2 linked regions of the Homo sapiens genome follow. The protein of the gene in region 2 purifies or fractionates together with the protein of the main gene of each other region. This does not show direct contact. Each region holds a gene or a part of one and is shown on either strand. Other genes may lie near its edges.

Region 1 (5,290 bases), on a different chromosome or scaffold from region 2:
TTGGTGCAGTTTCAACCATTTTGGTCACCTATCTTTTCCTCCATGCCATGGTGAAACTCTTAGTGTCTGCTTGAGCTAGTTCCCCATGCAAGGAATTGAGAAATGCCTTGAAATATACCAAGTCTGGGTGAACCCGGAAGGCTCTGGCCGAGAGAAGGCAGAGGATGATCAGGGATTGAGAAATCACTCAGGGATAATCCAGGGTCTCTTTCTTTAATGTAATATCTTTCAAGATAAACCTCCAAGAAAAAGTGATTCAGAAAATTTGATATACCTGTGCTGGAATTCCATACACTGAAGATTTACTATCAAAAGCATGTCTTGGCCAGGCGTGGTGGCTCGCGCCTGTAATCCCAGCACTTTGGGAGGCCGAGGCGGGCAGATCACTTGAGGTCAGGAATTCAAGACCAGTCTGGCCAACATAGTGAAACCCCATCTCTAGCAGAAGTACAAAAATTAGCCAGGTGCGGTGGTGCACACCTGTAATCCCAGCTACCTGGGAGGCTGAGGCAGGAGAATTGCTTGAATCTGGGAGGCAGAGGTTGCAGTGAGCCGAGATTGTGCCATTGCACTCCAGCTTGGGTGACAGAGTGAAATTCCATCTCAGAAAGAAAAAAAAAGCATGTCTTTACAAAGCAGAAGGTTTGGCGAAATACTAAACCCATTCAGAGAATAAATGTCAATTTGTTAAAGTAAATGATACCAATTGTGAACCTATAAAGGAACCCAGTGTAAAACAACACAGACTTGATATGCATCCAGTAAAAGCTGACTGAAAGCTCCTGATGAATATTCAGTGATCAGCGTGCACAAAGCATGCTGAAATATTTTTTAAATCATCGGTTAGAAGAATCTGAGCCTCTTTCCTATTGCCCCAAGGAAATCTTTAGTCACTTACCCAGAGATGCTTGCAAAGCATTAATATCCTGGAAGATGATCAATAAATGCTGACAGTTGATTGACTGATATCTGAGATATGTCAGGTAAATACCTCAGTCCTGGACAGAGAGCCCCTAAGTCACATCTGCCTTTGTGTAAGATGAAGACTGAAGTATGGAAATGTATGTAGTAAAATCACCTCTCGGAACTTGTTTGTAATTCATACAATCTATGTCAATTTTGAAAAATGTATGTAAAGCAGAGAAGGTTGTAGCCAAATTCAATGTATAGTATGCAAGAGTATATTATTTAATAATTTTTAATTGATGCAAATCCCATTAATTTTATAGTTTTATTTTTACATGATTTTAAACTGAAACTATTTATATTTCCTAAGTTCCCCTGTGTTTCTTTCTCACAATCACTGCTGAACGTAAATTTGTTGTTCACTTAATGGAATCACTGTTAAGGACACAGTCACTTGAATATGATTGCTTTTTAAAAATCAAGTCCAGGCGTGATATACTAGGATCACAGTTTCATGGCATGTTGGTCATAATCCTGAGAAAATAGTGACAAAATTATTATTTGTAGATATTAAATACCAGTTTAATAATATGTGTGGAAATCAGATTAAATAGTACATAAAGCCCACCCTAATAACAAGGGCAGGAAAAATTACTTCAAGAAAAACAATAGTAAACCTTAAATTAAAAATAATACAAATAAATAAGCTTTATGAATACATTTTTAAATTTAAAATGTATTGTCTCAATAAATTCCACTGCTGAGACTGTAATTGTATCACTTTCTCCTTATATTCTTCATTGATTATTAGTATATTAGACACCAGAACTGAATAAAATTGACTGTTTCAAGAGAACTCCTTTTTGATGTTTATTATATTATGAAGTTTGATAACTGATTGGTTAGAATAATATATAAATTACTTTTAAAATCTTTTAAAAGTTTTGTTCCTCTTTCCTATTATACTTTTTTGGTAATAGCTTTATTGAGATAAAAGTCACGTACCATACAATTCACCCACTTAAAGTGTACAATTCAGTGAGTTTTATTATATTCACAGAGTTGTGCAACAATCACCACAATCAATTTTAGGATATTTTCATTAGCCCAAAAAGAAATGCTGTGCCCTTTTGCAGTCATCTCCCATTTTCTTTATCCCCTCAGCCTCTAAGCAACTGCACTCCTATAGATTTGTCTATTCTGGACGTTTTCTGTAAATGGAATCATATAACATATAGCCTTTTGTGACTGGCTTCTTTGACTTAGCATAATGTTTTTAAGATTCCTCAACGTTATAGTGCATATCAGTGCTTCATTTTTTTTTTTTTTTTTTTTTGAGACGGAGTCTCCCTCTGTTGCCCAGGCTGGAGTCCAATGGTGCGATCTCGGCTCACTGCAACCTCCACCTCCTGGGTTCAAGTGATTTTCGTGCCTCAGCCTCCCAAGTAGCTGGGATTACAGGCGTACACCACCACGCCCAGCTAATTTTTGTATTTTTAGTAGAGATGGGGTTCCACCATGTTGGCCAGGCTAGTCTCGAACTCCTGACCTCAGGTGATTCACCCACCTCGGCCTCCCAAAGTGCTGGGAGATCTTCATTCCTTTTTATTGCTAATAATATTCCCTTATATTGATATAACACATTTGGTTTGCCCATTTATCAGTTCATAGATGTTTGGGTTTTTTTCTACTTTTGGCTATTTTAAATACTACTGCTATGAGCATTAGCATACCAGTTTTTGTTTGAGCATGTTTTTATTTCTCTTTGGTGTATACCTAAAGGTAGAATTGCTGAGTATTGTAGTAACTCTCTGTTCAGCCTTCTGAAGAACTGCCCAGCTGTTTTCCAAAGTGGTTGTACAATTTTTACATTCTCACCGGCAATGTATGATGATTCTAATTTCTCCACATCCTCACCAACACTTAATATTATCTGCCTAGTGGGTATGAAATATTATCTCATTGTGTCCTATTATTCTTTTTTGACACTGTATCCCTAGCACTTGTGTTTATTCAATTAATATATGAAAAAGCATTGGTTTTCATGTGTGTTTCTCAGTGTACAATTATAGTAAACATATCTTTAGTATCATTATCCTCTAAACCAAATAAATTATTACTATTACTATTATCATTATTATTTTGAGACAGGGTCTGGCTTTGTCACCCAGGCTGGAATGCAGTGGCACGATCAGGGTTCTGCAGCCTCCTCCTGGGCTCAAGCAATCCCCCCAAGTAGCCTTCAGAGTAGCTGGTATTACAGGCATACACCACCACGCCTAATTTTTTTTTTTTTTTTTTTTTTTTTTGTAGAGATGGGGTTTCACCGTATTGCCCAGGCTGGTTTCGAACTCCGGGGCTCAAGTGATCCTCCCTCCTCATCTTCCCAAAGTGCCAGGGTTACAGGCGTGAGCCACCATGCCCGGCCATAAACCAAATACATTATATTATAAATGTAATGCTTGTCTGTTACTTGTTAGCTAGAATATTACTCAAGAAATATTTATTTAAAAAATGACCTAATGCATTTCCTTGAATATTAATTGGTTTTGAACATTTCATGTGGTCATTGGCCATTTCTTCTATTGGGAATTATCTATTTCTATTCTTTGTTTTTCTATAATGTCTCTTTTTCTTACTAGTTTGTCAAAGCTTTTTATATAATACAGACATCAGGTCTTTTGTCTTAAAGGATACTGCAGATGTTTTTTCCCAGTCTGTTGCTTGTTTTTTAACCTTGTTTTTGATGTCTTATGTTCAAGTTTTAAATTTTTATATAATCAAATATGTTAATCTTTTTCTTTCAGACTTCTGGAGTTGTGTGTTGTTTAGGAATAACTTACCCATCTTAAGAGTTAACTATTTATATATTTTCAATCTTTGTGATTTCATAACAAAATATGTCTAAGGTCCCATTTTCCTTTAAGTACTGCTGTGGCCATACTCTTCAGATTTTGACCTGTGATCTTCCCAGTGTCTTTCATTTCAAAATAGTCTAATCACCTTTATTTACATTTAACATAAAAGTTAATGAGAAGGATGTTTTTTGTTTTTTGTGAGGTTTTTTGCTACAGGGTCTCCTTTTGTCACCCAGGTTGGAGTGCAGTGGCATGATCATAGCTCACTCTAACCTCAAATTCCTGGGCTTAAAAGATCCTCCCATATCAGCCTGCTGAATAGCTAGGACTACAGGCATGAGCCACCATGCCTGGCTAATTAAATTTTTTTTTTTTTTTTTTTTTTCCCATAGAGACACGGTCTTGCTATGTTGCCAGTGCTGGTCTTGAACTCCTGGGCTCAAGTGATCCCCCCACTTTGGCCTCCCAAAGTGCTGGGATTACAGGTGTGAGCCACTGCACCCAGCTGAGAAGAGTATTTTAAAACTTCCTTTTTCCATCGCATTATGGTCAGAGAATATGACTTGTGTAATTTCTATTTTTTGGAATTTATTAAATGTCCTTTGTGGCTTACCCATAAAGGAAAATAAAATAAAATTTGCTGTCTAGTTTCAAAGTTCTAGATTTTTTTGTGTGTTTGGCTTCTCCATCTCTGAAGGGTATGTTAAATCCTCCCTATGATTTTGATGTAACTGTTTCTCATAATTTGCGCAGCTTCTGTAAGATACTTTAAGCTATATTATTAGGTATTTAAACATTCGTTGCTATTAAATCTTCTTGATGGATTGTATATTTTATTATTGTAAAATCATCTTATTTGATTGTTTAATACTTTGTCCTAAAATTCCTCTTTATATTGCTAACTGTAACATTCTTTTTGTTAGAATTTGCTGATGTTTCTTTTCTACCCCTGCTTTTCCCCATCCTTTATTTGGTATTTGTTTTAGGTGAATTTCTTGCAAACAGATATTGGCTAGAATTTTTTTGAACCCTAATCACATATAGTTTTTGTTATTAAATAGGGACATTCAAACCAGTCACATTTATTGTGAATAACTAATACACTTGGACTTTTTCTGTGCCAGCCATCTAGTCCTGCAGCAATGAATGCTCTTCACCCTGATCTTTGGCTGGCTCTTTGTTATTTGGATCTCAGCTTAAATTTCACCTCTTCAGAGTGATTTTTTATGACAGCCTAATCTCATGTAGTCACCCCATCACTTTCTGTCCCATCACTGTTTTAATTCTCTGCATAGCATTTGTTGCAATCCTGTTTTTTTTATTATTATTATTATACTTTAAGTTTTAGGGTACGTGTGCACAACGTGCAGGTTAGTTACATATGTATACATGTGCCATGTTGGTGTGCTGCACCCATTAACTTGTCATTTAACATTAGGTATATCTCCTAATGCTATCACTCCCCCTTCTCCCCACCCCACAACAGGCCCCGGTGTGTGATGTTCCCCTTCCTGTGTCCATGTGTT
Region 2 (5,290 bases):
AAATCAACATCAGAGAGTTTAGATGCACTTTTTGAGGTCAGACACCTCTGGTAATGAATGCATTGGCCTTCTAATAGGCACACGCAGCTGCTTACGGCACCCACTCAAATAGATGTTTTCCTCCACATCCATTCACCAGAGGACTGATGCTCTGGCTGGGCAGGAGCAAGTAATCAGCCTAAAGATGCACCAAAACAGTTGCTGGGAATTCACACCTAATGGTGTTTTGTTAATTTAATCACCCTCTTCCAAATAGCAGGAAAAAAGTAGCTTTAATGCCAGTTTTACTTATTTATTTATTTATTTATTTTGAGATGGAGTCTCGCTCTGTCACCCAGGTGGTGCTGTGGTGCTATCTCAGCTCACTGCAACCTCCGCCTCCCGGGTTCCAGTGGTTCTACTGCCTCAGCCTCCCAAGTAGCTGGGATTACAGGCACACATCCCCATGCCCGGCTAATTTTTGTGTTGTTAGTAGAGATGGGGTTTCACCACATTGGCCAGGCTGGTCTTGAACTCCTAGCCTCAAGTGATCTGCCTGCCTCGGCCTCCCAAAGTGCTGGGATTACAGGAGTGAGCCACCGCATCCGGCCAAATGCTGATTTTAAAAAGGTGCTTTACAATGCTCTGGATCCTCTTGACCTACTTATTTGAAAATAGGAAGATGGGAAGACCCACTGAGGCTGTGGGAAGAAGAATCTAGGGGTGGCAGGTCTGGGATGGAACCCAGCCCCTCAGAGCATCTCATTTGGGAGGGCAGAGGTCAGTGGGGTGAAGTGCTCTTTCTCACAGTGTCCTGGGAGGAATGGAGGGGCTGATGTAGGTAAGTTCCCTGAGGAGGTATGATGCAAATCTGTGCGGCTTCTAAAAGAACATTCCCACTTTATTTTATATAGAAATCCCAGAGTCCAGGGCAGTACAAAATGGATGCTTCTGGGCCCATTTATACCTTGGCAAGCAAACCACAGTGTTCCCAATTTCTTTATGCAAGCAGGAGCACACATACAGCCTTCCCAAAAGGTGTAAGAAATTTTAATTAAAATGATAAATGCCATGCTCAATAATAAAGCTTTAATATCTCTGGCAAACAAAATAACAATGTACTGCTATTCTCCTTTCCCAGGGAAGCATAGGTATTTTAATGAAAGTCTTTTTATACATCTCATAAAATTATTCTTGAAAAGAATAGCACTAAGTATTTGATACCTTTTTGGCAGTGAAGGACTCTTGCACTCCAAAGCTCATCCAAATGTGAAGAGCAAAGACTCTAAAGCCCAATTGCCTGGGTTCAAATCTCTATGCCACACTTCCTAGTGGAATAGAGGAATTCCACACTTCCTGTGTGAAATTGAGCAGGTCATTTAACCTCTTGGTGTCTCAGTTTACTCATCTGTAAAGTGGGAGTAACAATACCACCTACTTTTTCGAGTTGTTGTGAGGATTAAATAAGCTAATACATATAAATAGTTTAGAAACTGTACCCAGCACAGAGTAAGTACTCAGTAAGTCTGGTTAATATTATAATTATTAACACCATCATCATCATCATCATCATCTTTCTCCCATGGTTTGGGAAACCGTACTGACCTCCTGTAACATATCAGAGTCTTCAATGGCTTTGACAGCAATTTTCTTGGATGTTTCCTGAATTTCCCCACCTATTATAAACTCGTCCAGGATGAAATAAGCCTTTTCAAAATTAAAGATAATATCCAGCTCACAGACCTGGTGGGACAAAAACAAACGTTTTGATAAACTTGCAGTTGTATCAGGGGAAACATCTGCCCGAATCTCGAGCTTTTTCAGTTTGCACTCATGTGGCGTACCAAAAATAAAAATATCAGATGGCATTTTAAGGACAGAAAAAAAGAACAGGGAATGTCAGGCCTTTAATAAATGGAATGCTACATTCTATTAAAGCAAAGCACATCCTTAGATAATAATGTTTTGTGTTACAACAGGAAATTTGAGGCTCAGTAAGGGAATGAGGCCACTCGGCTCCTCTTCCTATCTGCACCAAGAAAACTGAGCCCCAGCTGCATTCCAGGAAGGAGGGCAGAGCTTTGTTTCTCCTGCTCTCTGCTCTGTAAATCTTGGCTTCTAGCTTTAGAACTCTCTCAGAAACTAATTCTTCAGAGGAAAATTAGCTCAACTGTGCTAATTTTTCTCAAAATTATGTCACAGCCAGTGGTTCTCAAACTCATTCCAAAGGCTCATTAAAACACACTGGTGCTACAGCCCACCCCCAGAGTTTATGACTCAGGAGGTCTAGATGAGAACTGAGAATCTGCACTTTTAACAGGTTCCCAGGTGATGCTGAGGCCGCCGGACTGCGGGATTTCACATCCAGAATCCCTGGCGCGGATCAAAGCAGAGTCTGATAGATTTTGGTGTTTATTTAAGTGTAGCAAGTATGGCAAGATCACTCCCATCATCCAAATAAAGCTCATTTCCCGTACTCACACACCATCCTTGCTGTCTTACTCCCTACTTATTCCTCTACTCACTGACACCTTCTCTTTCCATACCATACCCCACCCACCCAACTGAAGCTGTTCTCCTGAAACTCTGCTCATTGAGTCTCCAGACTGCATAAATGTCTTCTTTTGAGAAGCGTCTGTTCATATCCTTCGCCCACTTTTTGATGGGGTTGTTTTTTTTCTTGTACATTTGTTTAAGTTCTTTGTAGATTCTGGATATTAGCCCTTTGTCAGATGGATAGATTGCAAAAGTTTTCTCCCATTCTGTTGGTTGCCTGTTCACTCTGATGATACTTTCTTTTGCTGTGCAGAAGCTCTTTAGTTTAATTGGATCCCATTTGTCTATTTTAGCTTTTGTCACTAGTCATTAGAAAAATGCAAATCAAAAACTACAATGAGATACCATCTCATGCCAGTTAGAATGGCGATCATTAAAAAGTCAGGAAACAACAGATGCTGGAGAGGATGTGGAGAAATAGGAATGCTTTTACACTGTTGGTGGGAGTGTAAATTAGTTCAACCATTGTGGAAGACAGTGTGGTGATTCCTCAAGGATCTAGAGCCAGAAATACCATTTGACCCGGCAATCCCATTACTGGGTATATACCAAAGGATTATAAATCATTCTACTATAAAGACACATGCACATGTATGTTTGTTGCAGCACTGTTCACAGTAGCAAAGACTTGGAACCAACCCAAATGCCCATCAATGATAGACTGGATAAATAAAATGTGGGACATATACACCATGGAATACTATGCAGCCATAAAAAAAGATGAGTTCATGTCCTTTGCAGGGACACAGATGAAGATGGAAACCATCATTCTCAGCAAACTACTACAAGAATAGAAAACCAAACACGGCATGTTCTCACTCATAAGTAGGAGTTGAACAATGAGAACACATGGACACAGGGAGGGGAACATCACACACCGGAGTGTGTTGGGGGGTGGGGGGCAAAATACCTAATGTAGATGGCAGGTTGATGAGTGCAGCAAACCACCATGGCACATAAATACCTATGTAACAAACCTGCACATTCTGTGCATGTATCCCAGAACTTAAAGTGTAATTTTAGAAAAAGGGAGGAGAAAAAAAAAAGAAAGAAAGTCTCCAGACCTCCCCAACGTTTACCTCTCAGCCACATGTGGTACTCTTCACCAATCTCTCTTCCTTGAAAATCTCTTCTCCCTTGCTCCCCTGATTTTGGCAATACCACTTAATGCCTGTTTTTCTTGTCTATCTCTGATAATTCCTTCTCAGACTCCTTGGATAATTTATCTCCCTCCTACCCTGCATTTGTTTAAGAAGTATTTAAGGTGTGCCTAGCACATATCAGTCAACAGAACAGACAAACATCTCTACTGCATGTTGCTTATATTCTAGCCATCCATCTTCTGCTTGAATATTCATGTTCCTCAAGGGAGCCTCTTCTCTTTGCAAAATGCATATTCTCCTGGACAATCTTGCTGACTCTCTACAGCTGTGTCTAGCATGCAGGTAGCTCAACAAACCTAGATGACTAGCCCTGATCTCCCTCTGGGCCACTAGTCCAATATTCTCACCCACTAACTAGACATCTTTACCTACCTATTCCTCAATCCATGTCACTATGTCCCAAGCTGATATCAAGATTATTCTTTTTCCTTTAGTCCCTATTTTGCTTAGTAGTTGCAATCTCTTTCTAATTTCTCCATCTAATTCATTCTAGAGTTCAACCAACATACTTCCCCTTCCCCACTCATTCCTCTCCCTCCTTGATCTCATCCCTCTGGATTTGGTCATCAGTTTCTACTGATTCTATTGTCTAAATAAGTCCCTACCCTTCCTGTCTTCTCTGCTTTCACAGCTGCTGCTCAGGCCTACAGCACTTCTCCATCAGGCCACTGCAATGACCTTCCAGGTGGCGGTTGTGCCTGCTCAGGGCCATTGACCACTAATGCTTAGCTAAAATGCTGATCTTGTGCCTCTCCAGTGTAAGGTCTTCAGGACAAAGGCATATAGGAATCTTTACCAGCCTGGGCCCTGCTGTCTGATTTCCCGTGCCAGTTCTCATCCATGCATCTGACACACATGCCACAAACTCACAATGTCACGGTGTTTTGTGCCTTTGCTTTCTGCACATTCCAACAATTCTTGAATTGTGTCCCCAAATGTCCTTTTCTTTATTCTCCTGCTGGCAAAACCAAGCTCATTTTTTCAAGGCCAAATTCAAAAGTCAGGCATGTGGCGATTCCCCACATCCCCTTTTCCCCATTCAGATTTCACATCACTTCCTGTGGGTTCTCACTTACATCTTCTGTGCACTAGTTTCTGCTTATTGATTACTAATCACTCCCCCGTACTGTGAGTTCAGGGCAGAAACTTTGTCTTCATTATCTTTATATCCCTGGTTTCTGGCACATTGTAAGACACAAAAAATGCTTGTAAGATAAATGAATGAGCAAGTTTAAGTAGAGGCCTTGTCTGGGCATGGTGGCTCACGTCTGTAATCCCAGCACTTTGGGAGGCTGAGGCAGGCAGATCACTTGAGGTCAAGAGTTCAAGACCAGCCTGGCCAACATGGTGAAACCTTGTCTTTACTAAAAATACAAAAATTAGCCAGGCATGATGGTGCACGACTGTAATCCCAGCTACTCAGGAAGGTGAGGCAGAAGAATCACTTGAACCCAGGAGGCAGAGGTTGCAGTGAGCCAAAATCATGCCACTGCACTCCAGCCTGGGTGACAGAGCAAGACTCCTTCTCAAAAAATAAAAATAAATAAATATAGGCCTTGTTTCTAATATGCTAGAGATTAATGGCATCCCAG

What was found. The genes of interacting proteins can lie anywhere in the genome.
Region 1: the proteins of AP1S3 (region 2) and VAMP4 purify together in Homo sapiens (pull-down; one study listed by IntAct). This does not show direct contact.

The regions. Positions count from the first base shown.
Region 1 is NC_000001.11:171,731,220-171,736,509, reverse strand, and holds part of VAMP4 (vesicle-associated membrane protein 4), read left to right. Parts: intron 1-5,290. UniProt on the Homo sapiens protein: Involved in the pathway that functions to remove an inhibitor (probably synaptotagmin-4) of calcium-triggered exocytosis during the maturation of secretory granules.
Region 2 is NC_000002.12:223,763,629-223,768,918, forward strand, and holds part of AP1S3 (AP-1 complex subunit sigma-3), read right to left. Parts: intron 1,723-5,290; coding exon 1,585-1,722; intron 1-1,584. UniProt on the Homo sapiens protein: Subunit of clathrin-associated adaptor protein complex 1 that plays a role in protein sorting in the late-Golgi/trans-Golgi network (TGN) and/or endosomes.